2 linked regions of the Homo sapiens genome follow. Each later gene encodes a partner of the first gene's protein in a complex. Each region holds a gene or a part of one and is shown on either strand. Other genes may lie near its edges.

Region 1 (7,405 bases):
ATACTTATTAGAAAGGGGTATAGCTACTAGGCAATTAAAAACTATTTTATACCCTAGGCCAAATTGGCAGCATATCCTATGAGGATTTTTTTTCCCAGTGGTTAGCAACTTGCTTCTATGAATGATTTGTTGAGCTGTGAAGGGATTTCCATAGCAGTGAAATCTTGTGTGTGGAATTTCCACATATATGTATACAAATTTTATCTACACCACACTTCAAATACAGCCATATTTACTGCTTGATGTTAATGAACAATAAAAATTCTCTGCAGCACTGTTCCTGTCAGAGAGGCATGGAGAGATCTTCTAGAGAGTGTGCCATCTGTCACATATGGACAAAACCTTGATCCAGGTGCTATTTATTAACTCTACTAAATAAGTTGCATTATTTTCATTTTAAAGTGAATAGACTCAAAAAGATTAAGTAATTTATCCAAGTGGCAGAAAGTAGCACTCTTTGTCAAGTAAGTCGGTATTCAACTTCAGAATTTTTGTGAATAGAAAAAACAGAAATACAGAAGAAAATGCTTAGGGAACTACTCTCTAAAATGAAATGTCTCTCCTAGGCAGTTGCAGTTAACAGTATCCAATTTTCTAAGCTTCTCTGGCAGCCACTTGTTACCTCCCGCAAAAGAAAAATTAAACTAATCTGAGGGACAGATTTTTGTACCTCAGTCATTTGAGTACAAATTTCCATCTACTTTTGCCTGCTACTGAGGTTAACTAAGTTCAACTTATACAAGTGCAAACACCCATGAAGTCCTCAAGATTTATCTGACCACAATTCAGCAAAATAGAACTCCTTAGCTGAGTAGAGGTATGATTGAGTAAGGGATCTTATATTCAAAGGGGGCAAAAGAAAATACAACTCAGTAACATTTCATCTGAAAACCCATAGAAGGAGATTTTAAAATAGGATCACTGTTCCAATTCAGAAATAATTGGTAATAGATATGTAATATTTATTTGTACTTGGACACAATTTAAAAAAGCAGCTCAAAATTATACTGAAGATGTTAAAACTGTTAATTGAAAAGGGTTCAGATATGGGTATAGGCCTATTACAGCTCTATATCTATTAGGAAACATGAAGTAAACACAGAAATAATTAGAAATATATATTAACAAAAAATAGAACCTTTAAATGGAACCACCAGTTTTTCAATTGAGGTCTAAAAATTGTGAGCAAATGATACTCCACAGATGATAGGTGCTACTACCTATTTTTGTAGAAATATACAAGATATACAAAGTTTTTACATATGTTGATTTTTGCATATGACAGTTTATGAGGCTGGCAAAAATTATGATTATTATCACCATTTTACATATAGTAATGAGATGTGAAAATAGGAGGCTTCCGGAAGTGACACAGCCAACGTTTCACATAGTGTATAATGACGATTCATTTAGATCATATTGTATGGCGGTTTCAACTTACATTTCAAACTTCCTGACCCAAAGGACTTCCAATTGTTTACAAAATGTTCCACAAACTATTATGTTTTCTAAGATTTTTGCACTGTGTAGAGTGGACTAGAGGGGAATTATATCCTAGTTTTATAGAGAGGGATTGAATGAGCCAGTTTAGAATTCACAGTAATGATGCTAGGTTACTACATTTTCTTGTGCATATAATGCTTCATGTATTGTTTTGATTATTTATATTCACATTTTACTATATTTACATTTTTAAAATCATGGCAACTTAAATTAAGAATTTTTTTAAAAAATCATTTAAAATAGACTTTGGAAAATCTGCTCCCGGGGTGAAATTTCTTAACATAATTCTTTAATTCACCTCAGCTTATTTGTCCCTTGGTTTTTTTATGTTGTACTTCATTTATATTCATTTGTAGCATCAGATGTTAGGCGGTATTTAATTTTCATCATCTTGATTTCCATAACTGGTTATACAACTTGATGAGAAAAAATATAAAGTGGATTTTGCTTCTTGAAGAAAAGACATCAAACTATCATAATCATACTGGGACTGTCAGTTCACATTAATCAACTGTTTCTGTTTTCTTTTACTGGCAGGACAGAGGGAGGGGGATAGAAAGATTGAGAGAGACCGCATAAAACTCAATCAGTGCTCAGGAAGAAAAGAATCTGTTCTTCTAGGTCTGAATAATCAAGTGCATATGTTTTTAATTAGCAACATCTTTGTACTCTGTGCTTCATTTAAATGCTCTTATTTGGTGTGTTGATTTTCTGTGGTTATTCATGTTTCCGTATGTCCTGATAAAATAATTTAAACAATCAATTAAATCAACCTTAGTAAGCATAGAATTAAATACAGCAGAGAAAAGCTTCTTTGCTGACAAGGACGGATAGCCCCTGATTAGCATAACCCTCACACGGGGGGTTTGTTTTAATCATCTAACAAAAAGGGGGCATTTTCTGAAACACACACGACAGGTATTGTTTCTGCAGAAAAAAGAAGCACGTGTTTCACCACATTTGTCTAAGGAAAAGGGAAACTTCATTTACCATAACCTTAAGCAACGTTTTCACATGGACTGAAAAGCAAAAGACCCCCTTAAAAATTAGCCTCAAGCAGCAGATACTCTCTTTTTAGGTTTGTGTGTCTCCGTGAGGTCAGATGGATTCCCCAAACACGGTTTTAGAGAGAATCACAACCTTTAATAGATCCTCTGTTAAAAAAGACTGTTAGAGAAAGTTGACCAAGGGCTTCGTTCCACGGCGACCGTTTCCTGCGTGTGCAGCTCCACACAGCGACCGCGGCCTGCAATGTGCGGAGCACAGCGCGGCCCCTTCCAGCCGGAGCTCGCGAGCCGCGGTGGCGGCTGGTGGCCACCCCAGGGAAATAAAGCCGTTGCTGCTGCAGCAAAATGGCTCAAAGTCCAACCAAAGTCTGGCCTTTTCCTGTGAGTAAATACGCGGCCTGTTTGGTTTTCCGTCCCGAGTGATTCCCGGCTCAGTAACGTTTCTCCTCCAGGGAGCCCACTGGAACTCCACTGGCTGTGCCGCCTCCTCGCCCGTCCCCCGCGCGCGCCGCAGGCCGGTGCTTGGAGAGCGCAATGTCCCCGGGAGGGAAGATCCCCTACCTGGAATGGATGGTTCCAGACCAGCGGGAACGCGCTCTAATCCTTGATGGAAGCAAGCGTGGGAGGAAAGCACAACGTCTAGGACTTCCCTGTAGTGTCAGAACAGGAAGAAGAACCTGAGAAGTCGCCGGGGAAGGGAGGCCAGGAGCAGGCGTCCGGCCCCTTCCCACAGCCCGGGAGAAATTAGTGTTGCGCCCCGCCCCTCCCGGACCCCCGTCCCCACCACACACACCAGCGCCCCTCACCAGTCTTTCTCGAATTTCCTCTCATGTCTATCAATAACCTCCTTGTGCAGAAATCTACACTGCACAAGTTAGGAGTCTGCAAGGGCGGGCGGTGTTACAGTCTCGCTCTTTCCATTTTCCCCTTTTACTCCACATAGTTTCAAAGGTCCACATGGCCCTGGTTTTGACCAGTTTTCCAACAGTTTCAACGTTATGTATTTCAACTTCCCGTCTCAGTTCACTGGCGTCTGCACCCGTTGCCGAGTGTGGGTGGCTGAGCCCTGGGTGACAGCACTCGGGACCACGCACCCATACCCTTCTTTATGCTCGTTGTCAGCCAGTTGCCAAGAGCGGGAGTGAAGAGCCTGCAAGGCCCGGGAGAGCGCGGATTCCGGAGTAGGGAGGCGAGGGGGCAGCGTGGGAGACCAGAGGGAAAATGGGCTGAAAAGCCAACAAAAAAAACAACGTAAATTGGGCTTTGCTCTGGCTTTACAAAGGCAGAGATTGTCGAGCCCTCTGACTGTCTTTGTGCCTTCTTTATCCCGTCCTTTGTGAAATAAGCCGTTTTCTGCCCCCACTGCAGGAGCCTAGGCTGTGGGCGACTCGCTAGCACTGCCCTGGGCCTCCAAGCTGCCTGCTCGCTGAGCTCAGCGCTGACACTCACAGGAGCTGCGTTCGCCGGATCCTCTGAGAGGCTCTGCAACGATCCCGATCCAATTCAGCAGCGTTTTAAAAGGTAGCCGAGTGCAGATGCTTTTTCCTGTCTTTTTCATTCTTTCATTCTCTGTCTTTTAAAATTTTAACAATAACCTATCGTTTCCGCGTGGAGGGTCTAAGAATCTTCACTGGGTTTAATTTAGGAATTTCAAATTGGGTTTCTCAAAATTTGAATGTGGTCCCCTTAATTGGTAATCAAGATTGCGGAGTTTTCCAAAATATTCCTTTTCATCTTATGTAATTAAAGATCCACGAGCTTTCCAAAGAAGCTCTGGATTTTCCACGGTACAAATCTATATATTTTTTCTCTCTCTTCCTCTCTCTCTCTCTCTGCCTCTCTCGTGCGTGTATGTGCGCGCCCCTGTGCGTGCGTTTTCTTTCATTTCTGGCATTAGGAAACTCGTGCAGGGCCACTGAAAAGTCAGGGGAGGCTCAGATGTTATTTCCCAGGGATTCCTGTTTTTCCAGAAACGTTGTCACCAAATAAGTATGAGACTGTTAATTTGGAGAAACAATTAGCCCCTACAAAAAAAAAAAAGAAAGAAAAAAGAAAAAAAAAAGAACCGGAGGGGAGAAGGCTAGGGCGGAAGACAAGGAAGCTGCTGCTTGGATTCGCTGGTGGAGGAAAGTGCGACCTGGACCTGCGCTTAGGGGCTCCCGTCCCCTTACTTCAGCACCAGAGGGGATGGACAGCGTCTCCGGACTGAGCTGCAGCCACAGGGACGGAACTACGCTGCCGCCGCCGCTGTCCTTGCCGCCACTGTCGTCGCCACGGGCAGCTGGGCTACTTGCTCCTCGCAGCTAAAAGGCGGTGCCTCCTATTACCCCCTCGCCTCCCGGCCCCCTTCCTTAATGGATGAAAAGTACCCCTCCCTCTACACCTGCTGTACCTAAGGACAGGACTCTGAGGAGTACTCTTGCTCCACAGATTAAACTCTCAGCAGCAACTTCAAGAATCATTTTTCTATAGGGGTCTGGGAGGAATTCTGGAGGAGAGTAAAGTCGAAGTTCTTAGAAGCTCTGAGAAATCATGGGCCGTGCGGTAGGGGTTGAAATGCTCAAAGGTCCACACTTCTTGAAATAAACAGAATGGTCTTGAGTGGATTGCAACTGTTTTGGAAATAGCTTTGTGAAAAGAGGGTGGAGAGCTACTCAAAATTCTACGTTAGAGAGACTGAAAAGACATCTAATTTCATTGCTCGGCAGGTAAGTGATAGCGCTATTATTTTTGTTTTTTAAAATTCTAATGACTTGTCTTATGGTTTAACAGAAAGATCATAAGCAGTGTAATTTTTTCTGGGGTTAACGAGGAGACAAGCAATTTTGTTTTAAAATAATTGTTTCTGGATCATTGTGTGACAAGAAGAATCAAAATAACATACATGTTGCCTTACATAATTACAGTAAACTTTTAGCTGGCCATTTTTCTTATTGCTTATCTAATATCTTTTTGGATCTGGCATATCTTGTTTATTTTTTCCCAAAACTAATGCAATCGTTTGGCAAGATAATTTTGTTGTCTTATGTATGCCATAAAAAGTGATCCTGTCTGTGTTACATAGTATGCAAGACTAAAAAAGTTAAAATAGAGAGGGTTTAACCATGCCCTCTAACATATTTTATATTGTTATAATATACTAAACTATGCATGGGAACAAATACATGTATACATATACACCAGATTTCTCACTCCATGCCAACCTCCAAGTATACCTACACCTGTAGGATCTTACGTAAGGAGACACTCATATTTTTACTTAGCACCCTCTTTCCAGCCTTTGAAAGCTCAAGATTGCTTTCTCAAACCTGATCTGCCAGAAAGCAGAAAATGAGAAGCTTTAGTGTGCCTCTTTAGGAGAGCTGGATTTCAAAATCATTCTAACTTATTAGTTCTGCAAAATACATTTGTCAGTGAAATCCAGAAAGTGATAGGGACCAGTAGGTTCCCGAAAAACCATAAACTTTAAAATGCTAATTAAATCTGTTTTCTGTTGATTCTTATTTCTAGTTTTCCCCTGGAGCTTTAAAATTACAATCTTTCACAGTGACCTTGATAAGCATTCTGCTTTAATAAAAAGGGTTCACTGGGCAAAAGCAGTTACACAAATTTGTAACCCGTGCCTGACATTTCACTAAGAATCCGATCAATTCCAATGAGTACATTCAGTTCAGTGAAGAGTTTTGACTTGCAAGGATGGAATTTTACAGTCATGTAAATACATGTGATGAGATATTCATAATCAACTCTGTGAAAAGAGTCTACCCCTTTGAAAAATTACAGGAGATCTTTAGGTTTTACTTTTAATTTCACTGGTTGTGTGTAACGATAGTAAAATGGCTCTAATGCATATCTATACGTACCTTCCTTCTCAATTTTAACACAAAAATCATTGGAGGCCGTTACAGTGGCATTCATTGGTGGGGTGATGTCCTCTTGTTTTATGTTGGCTGAGTGTAGCAATTACTCTGAGGAAAAATCATTCTTAACTGTCACCACTTACCATGAACCTGCTTGCTTAGCAGAAAAGGAGCAGAGGCATCTATGTCACTGAGCTCCTTGGGGGCTCCGTTGCCCTATATAGGTCAAGAATGATTATCTGAGGAGGAGAAACATGTATTATTGATTTGGATTCCTTCCCAGAAAACCTACAATGTGCTCTTAACACAATCCTTTTTTTCCTCAGTGGGAGAGGTATGGAAGTGAAATTATCACATGGAAGACTTAATCATATTTTAAGAGAGTTACAGCATGTCTTTAGACAATTATTTTGGCTGTCAATTAATTAACACAGAGGGACTCCCCTAGTCAGTAGGGCATAAAATGTAAGCAGAGAATGTGTTTCAAGAAGCACTCCTCTGTGTATATGGCCGCAGTTCCCTCCTCAGGGGCAGAGGGGGCAGGCTTTCTCTATGTGTAACTGAAATCTCACAAAGTGAAAGTTACCTTTGCCTAATCCCTTAGGAGATTTAGTCACAGAAATATGTAACTCTAATTCACCCCAAACTCATGAAACTGCATGGAAACCCTTGTCAATCCTTATCTGTAGGGAAATGTCCTTACATTGAGATAGAGTTTGGGAAAGCAACTTAATGCCTACCAATGCTAATCTCTAATTGTAAAGTAGATAGTCAAACAAACAAACAAAAAGGGGGTAGTGGAAACCAATCTTCATTATTGCACAGAATCACTTGTCTTTAAAGAAAAATCAACATTTTATTAAGGGATATCTGTACCCCACTAAGGGCATCTATTTGCTTTGATAGTTATTTTGTTTTGCTAAAGAAAAAGGATGCATGAGGTCTTGGGAGTACCAAACACACTATCTTTTCCCCATTAAAAAAAAAAAAAAAGTTTTATTGGATAAGACTAAGTGTTGTTGGCTGTTGCTTACA
Region 2 (6,872 bases), on another chromosome or scaffold:
ACTGGGGGCAGCAACTCTCTTGCCCATGAGAGGCACCATCTCCTTGGGGTGGGCTTTCATGGCTGGAATACAACCACAGGGCAGATGCTCAGGCCGGGGGGACAGGGGGAGCTTCAGGGAGTTTAGGGGCCCCATGTGGCTGCATCCAGCTCCCGTTCACACTACCTGGAACTGGAAGCTCACTCCTCCCTTCCCAGTTCACCAATCCTTCTTCAAGGACAGAGAAGCTGTCCCCAAAGCTTCCCCAGCTCCCTGCTCTAGCACCCCCAAATGCTATGGTCCTAGGAGAGCCCAGCAGGGTGTCCCAGTAGAGACCACCATGCCCCTGTCCTCTCTCATGACACCCTCCCCAGCCAACCAGTCCCCAGGTGGACCCCTGAACTAGTGGAGAGTCCAGCAGGGTGTCCCGGTAGAGACCACCATGCCCCTGTCCTCTCTCATGACACCCTCTCCAGCTGACCAGTCCCAGGCGGACTCCTAAGCACTAGCTCTGCTTTCCTGAGGTCCCTCTCCGATTTTGTGATGAGCAGCTCTCCAAGAGTTTTGACCTCCACAGAGCAAGATTATCACCTCCTTTGCTCTAGATGTTATGCTCCTAGTAACACAGCCTTAAGCTCCTCAGGTGTTTTGGATTCCTCAGTGTCCAGGTGGTCTCTGCAGCCAACACACCGATCATCTCCCCCGCCCACCCAAAGCTGTGTGTAACCAGCTTATGGCTGCCTGTCCATTAGATTCCCCTCTCACCTGCAGGGAGCAGCTGAGTCCCCTTGCCCCAGGCAGAGGAGGCCGACCCCCCAGTCCAGACCTGCTTTACTGATGCTCAATGTGGGCTGGGCACCGTGCTGAGCTCCGAGGGGTGTGGGGATTGGGGAAGGGGGACTGATACATCTTCCAACAAGACCAGGATAGACCGTACAGGCTGCTGTGTGGAGGAAGGACAAGCCGGGCAGAGGACAGAGCCTGGGAGGGTCAGGAGTGGCAGGAGTGGGGGGAGCTGCTGTGGCCAGAGAACCTGGGGAGCTCATGGGGACCCTGCCAGCGAAAGCCATGCGGGCAGGCTGGGCCCTGTATAGTCCTCGAACACCGCATAAGAGCTGTGGCTTCAGGCAGGCACAGTGGCTCACACCTGTAATCCCAGCACTTTGGGAGGCCAAGGTGGGCAGATTGCCTGAGCTCAGGAGTTCAAGACCAGCCTGGGCAACATGGTGAAACCCCGTCTCTACTAAAATACAAAAAATTAGCCGGGCATGGTGGTACATGCCTGTAGTCCCAGCTAGTCGGGAGGCTGAGGCAGGAGAATCACTTGAATCCAGGAGGCAGAGGTTGGATTGAGCCGAGATTGTGCCACTGCACTCCAGCCTGGGCGACAGAGCGAGACTCCGTCTCAAAAAAAATGAAAAAAAAAAAAAATAAAGTTTTTATTAAACATAAAAAAGGAGCTATGGCTGACCCCTGGGGGCAGCTGGGAGTTGGGTGCAGAGGCTCTGGGTTACATAGGAGAGCGCGGGCTGCGTTGGGGGGTGGGGGAGACCAGAAGCCAGGGGCCAGGAGGAGGCTGCTGCAGGGGCCATAGGGACGGGGAAGGGGGCCAGCTGGCCACAGAGGGATGACATGGGCGGGGAAAGGGCTGTGTGGACAGGTGGTGACTGTGTGGTCAGGGGGTGCCACTCTCAGCTTGAATCATCCTCAGGGGACTCACCTGGCGACACATAGGTGGGGGCAGGAAGACGGATTTCTGTAAGAAGAACCCAGCTGGGTGGGGTGGAGCTGGGGCCACTGGTGATCCTACCCCAATAGGAAAGCTTCCTGGAGGAAGTTTCCGGAGCCAGGTGTCATCAGGCTGGAGAGAGTCCCCCGCCCTCCAACTCAAAGGGAGCAGGCTCAGGATGGAGGAGGCATCGGCGAGGGAGAGCTTTGGCCCTGGAGCGTAGGCAACCTTGAGGCCAGGCAGGTGGAGTAGCCCACAGAGAGGGACTCCTGGGCACCCGGCCCTCCCGTGTCCAGTCACGGCCTGATGAGGATGGGCAGCCTCTATGGCTTTCCCCATCCCCACGTGGCCTTTGGTGGACTAAAAGGCTGGGATGCACCGAGCGTGAAGGAGACAGAAGAAGGGCACGTCTCTTGCCCCTCCCAGGGCCTCTGGTTTCCTTTCTGAGAAGTGGGCTGAATGGTCCCCAAGGACTCTGTGGCCCTGAGAGCTGGTTGCTCTCTCTCTTCTCTGGGCCCGAGAATGTGGCCTGCCCTGGGCCTCTGGGGCAGGAGAGGCTCAGGGAACTCTGGACTAGGGCCGCAGCAGCTATCATTAGCTCCCTGAGTCACCCCGTAAACCCCACGTTCTCACCTGCTGGACTCTCTTGTTGCCCTGGCCCTCCCTCTCTCTCCCAATCCCTGACACTGATTGAAATGGCCTTTCCCGGGCGACAGACCAGGCCGCGGAGCCACAGCTGCTGACTCAGCACCTGTGAGATGCCTGGGCCCCGTCTGTCTCCCACGGTGGGGCCACCTCCTCCCATCCTGAACTCCCATCACAATCCTGCCCCAGAAAGCCACCTCCCTGGGTCAGCCTCGGGAGGCAGGAGCCTCTCCTCTGCCCCCAGCAGTGGTGAGATTGAGATGTCCCTCCCCAGGATTCCCAAACCTCAGGGGAATGTTCCTGAGTCTGTAAGGACCTATATTCTCACACATCCCTACAGCCAAGAGTGCAGCCAAGAGTGCCTCCCTACAGCCAAGAGTGGGCCCCTGGCTGGGGCCCAAGCTCCTTCCAACCCTCCTCCCAAGGCCTATTGGCCAAGGGCAGACATGGCCCAGAGGACCTCTGAGGGCCACGCTCTGGGCTCCCCAGGGGCCTTGGAGATCACCAGCTGCCTTGTGCACAGAAGACTCACCTGGTGAGGTTCTGGGTGGTCGTGGCAACCCTTGCCCTGAGATCACCGCATGTCTGGGGCCCAAGGCCCCCGGGTGGGACTGTGGCTGAGGCGGCGGGAAGCTCTCATTGCAGGCAGAGGGATGGCTGGAATGAGGCGTCAGAGGCAGAACTGGCTGAGCCACCTGCCCTCGGCGCCAGGCAGGCCACGCCCACCAGCCACAGCTGCAGCACCCGCCCACCCACGTGGCCCGTGTGAGTCACCCCCACACCCACACAGCAGCCTCATCCCCACCGGAGAAAAGGCAGGGGAGGCCGCAGGTGCCAAGATCGAAGTTGTGGGTCCAACTCCTCCCTCTCTGGCATTCCATGCTGGGCAGGGACTGCCCATCTCAGGCCTATTTTTCCAACTAGGAAATGGGAATGATAACATCTACTTTCCAAGGGAGCCGTGAAGAGCCAAAGAGATCACAGAGGTGGGAGGGCCTAGTGAAGAGTCAAGCGCTCTGCTCTGTCCCCTGGGAGGGAAGACCGCAGCCCAGGCCTAGCCTGGTTGACCTCAGGGTGGCCAGCCCCAAGACTCGGCACTTGTTCTCAAAAGTCGGTTCCTGGGATCAGGTCTCTCGGGGACGGAAGTCCCCATTTAATGCTGTCCACCAGCAGTCACGCATCATGGCCCTTAGTGTCAGCCTCACCCCTTCCTGGCTGAATGACCTTAGCAGGTCATTTCTCCGAGCCTCAGTCTCCTCATCTGTGAAACGTGCTTCATAAACCCACTTTGCAAGGTTATCGTGGGGCTTCAACAAGTACAAGTAGAAAGGGCCAGAACAAGGCCCAGGGCACGGCAAGAACTCAATAAACAATGTCAGCTCTTAGCTATGATTGCTTTTGTCATCTCAATGTATTCTCCCAGCAACTGCCCAGGTTGCCCTTCTCCAAGGCCAGGGCGTCATAGAAGGAATCGGTGCCCTCTCTCCTGGCCCAGGCTGCAGCTGTGAAGTGGGTGGAGTGAGTCAGGATGGCCGTGTGTGTCTCGCGTCACTCAGGAACTGCACACCTGCTCCCCGGGGCGAGATGTGGACAAGACACAGCTGGGACAGAGCAGGAAGTCTCTGCTGACGCGGCCGCAGCTGGCGCCTGATGGGCAGGGAAATCCCCAGCTGTGAGCCTCTCAATCCCTCATCATCACAACCTGCCTGGCCTGGGGAGGAGGCAGGAGGCAGGTGAGGCTTCTAGGCCACGGGAGAGCAGGACCTATGGCCGGTAAGGGGCAGACCAGACTTGAGGGTGTGGGTGAAGCAGGAGACCGCTTCTGCCGTTGAAGTCAGGGGGTCCTGAAGTTCCCACTCACAATCTGAAATCTCATGACTGTGCCTGAAACTCGACCGGAAAAGCCCGATCTGGGGTTGAGCACGGCCTCCGGCCACTAGCTTACTCACCCTCTCCCGACCCAGCCCCGCGCCCTCCCTGTTTGCCTCTGGCGGCTCAGACGCCTGGGGAGGAAGCTGCTGCCAAATGTCAGTGCTTCCATTTTGCTCGTGTTCATAACTTTTCTCAGAGGGCAGGTGGGAGCTGGTGAAAAAGGCCCCTGTCTCCCACCCAGAGGTGTGCCCTGTGCCCAGCAAGGAAGAAGGGGACCCCCGCTCTGCTATGAGAGGCAGCAGGAGCCAGGTCACCCAGTGGAGTCACAGTCACTACTTAGGAAGCCCGAGCCCATCCTAATCCCACCCCAAACACACAGAAGCAGCAGCTTCAGCCCCTTAGATGGTCTATATTCAACCCCATTTAACCCAGCACATGGTGAGAGCCCACGGGAGAGGCCGTGGCAAGGGCGCAGGTGGACAACGAGGGATTCAGAACTGGAGAAGGCCGTGTCCACCCTCGTGGGCCACAGGGGACACAGGCTCAGGCAGGAACCATGACCCACCATGTGGGTCATCAGGACAAAATGGGCTGAGACCCCCAAGGCGGGAGGAAGTCCCTGTGATGGGGTGTAGGGGATGAGTTCGGGAAAGAGGGAGCATCTGCCTGGACTTGGAAGGAGGGAAGAGGCCACAACATGGTGAAACCCCGTCTCTACTAAAAATACAAAATTAGCGGGGTGAGGTGCTGCACACTGTAGTCCCAGCTATTCGGGAGGCTGAGGCAGGAGAATTGCTTGAACCTAGGAGGCAGAGGTTGCAGTGAGCCGAGACTGCACCACTGTACAGCCTGGGCAACAGAGCGAGACTCCGTTTCCAAAAAAAAAAAAAAAAAAGAAAGAAAGAAAAAAGAAAAAGAATGGAAAAGTGAAAAGGAATATGATCAGAACAAAAATATAACATGCTATAGTGTAAATGCATACAACACATTGGTCAATGCTATTAAGTTTAAATTAAACACACACACACACACAGAGAGAAACAGAAAAAAAGATAAAAGATAAAATGACCACTTCATACTCTTTAGAATGGCCCAAATCCAAAATGTTGACAGCACCAGCAAATGCTGGTGAGGACATGGAGCAACAGGAACTCTCGGCCATCACTGGTGGGAATGTAAAACGGTGCAGCCACTTTGAAAGACACTTTGGTGGTTTCTTACAAAACTAAACATACTCTTACCATTCAATCCAGCAATCACACTCTTTGGTGTTTATTCAAAGAAGCTGAAAACTTATGCCCACACAAAAATTGCCCATAGATATTTATAGCAACTTTACTTATAATTGCCAAAACTTGGAAGCAACCAAAATGTCCTTCAGTAGGTGAATGGATAAAGAGTGGTACATCCGGCCAGGCGTGGTGGCTCACGCCTGTAATCCCAGCACTTTGGGAGGCGAAGGCAGGTGGATTGCTTGAGGCCAGCAGTTCAAGACCTGGCCTGGGCAACATGACGAAACCCCATCTCTACAAAAAATACAAAAAAATTTGCTGGGCATGGTGGTGGGTGCCTGTAGTCCCAGCTACTCGGGAGGCTGAGGCAGGAGAATGGCGTGAACCTGGGAGGCGGAGCTTGCAGTGAGCCGAGGTTGTACCGCTGCACTCCAGGCTGGGCGACAGAGCAAGACTCCGTCTCAAAAAAAAAAAAAAAAAAAAAAAAAAAAAAGAGTGCTACATCCAAGAGAATGGAATGTTATCCTCCAATAAAAGAAATGAGCTCTCATGCCACGAAAAGACCTGGAGGAAACTCTAATGCATAATACTAAGTACAATAAATCAATCTGAAAAGGCTATGTATTGTATTGATGATGCCAACTACATGACATGCTGGAAAAGGCAGTAAAAGATCAGTGGCTGGCCAGGCACGGTGGCTCACATCTGTAATCCCAGTATTTGAGGAGGCCAAGGCAGGTGGATTGCTTGAGGCCAGGAGCTCAAGACCTGGCCTGGGCAACATGACGAAACCCCATCCCTACAAAAAATACAAAAATGAGCCAGGCGTGGTGGCTCTCACCTATAGTCGCAGCTACTCAGGAGGCTGAGGTGGGAGGATCTTTGAGCCCAGGAGGTCGAGGCTGCAGTGAGCCGTGATTGCACCACTGCACTTCAGCCTGGGCGACAGAGCAAAACTCCGTCTCAGAAAAAAAAAAAAAAAAAAAGGGTCAGTGTTGGCCGGGCGCGGTGGCTCACGCCTGTAATCTCAGCACGTTGGGAGGCCGAGGCGGGCGGACCGCGAGGTCAGGAGATCGAGACCATCCTGGCTAACACAGTGAAACCCCGTCTCTACTAAAAATACAAAAAATTAGCCAGGCGTGGTGGCGGGTGCCTGTAGTCCCAGCTACTCGGGAGGCTGAGGCAGGAGAATGGCATGAACCTGGGAGATGGAGCTTGCAGTGAGCCAAGATCACACCACTGCACTCCAGCCTGGGTGACAGAGCGAGACTCCGTCGCAAAAAAAAAAAAAGGTCGGTGTTGCCAGGAGCTGGAGAGAGGGACGGATTAATAGGTGGAGGATGGAGGATTTTTAGGCAATAAAATTCCTCTGTGTGATACTATAATGATAAACGCAGGTCATACATTTGTCAAAA

The links.
Region 2: the proteins of SNTG1 (region 1) and TRPV3 are in contact, whole or in part, in a crystal structure (PDB 7QQN), measured with the Homo sapiens proteins. Residues at the interface, in NP_001274742.1 of Homo sapiens: Arg62, Gly66, Gly67, Phe68, Gly69, Leu70, Ser71, Ile72, Lys73, Gly74, His78, Ser85, Lys86, His118, Glu119, Val122, Arg126; in NP_659505.1 of Homo sapiens: Pro786, Glu787, Thr788, Ser789, Val790.

Annotation. Positions count from the first base shown.
Region 1 is NC_000008.11:49,907,014-49,914,418, forward strand, and holds the start of SNTG1 (gamma-1-syntrophin), read left to right. Parts: upstream 1-4,393; 5' UTR 4,394-5,218; intron 5,219-7,405. UniProt on the Homo sapiens protein: Adapter protein that binds to and probably organizes the subcellular localization of a variety of proteins. May link various receptors to the actin cytoskeleton and the dystrophin glycoprotein complex.
Region 2 is NC_000017.11:3,554,791-3,561,662, forward strand, and holds the start of TRPV3 (transient receptor potential cation channel subfamily V member 3), read right to left. Parts: upstream 3,023-6,872; 5' UTR 2,886-3,022; intron 63-2,885; 5' UTR 61-62; coding exon 1-60. UniProt on the Homo sapiens protein: Non-selective calcium permeant cation channel. It is activated by innocuous (warm) temperatures and shows an increased response at noxious temperatures greater than 39 degrees Celsius. Activation exhibits an outward rectification.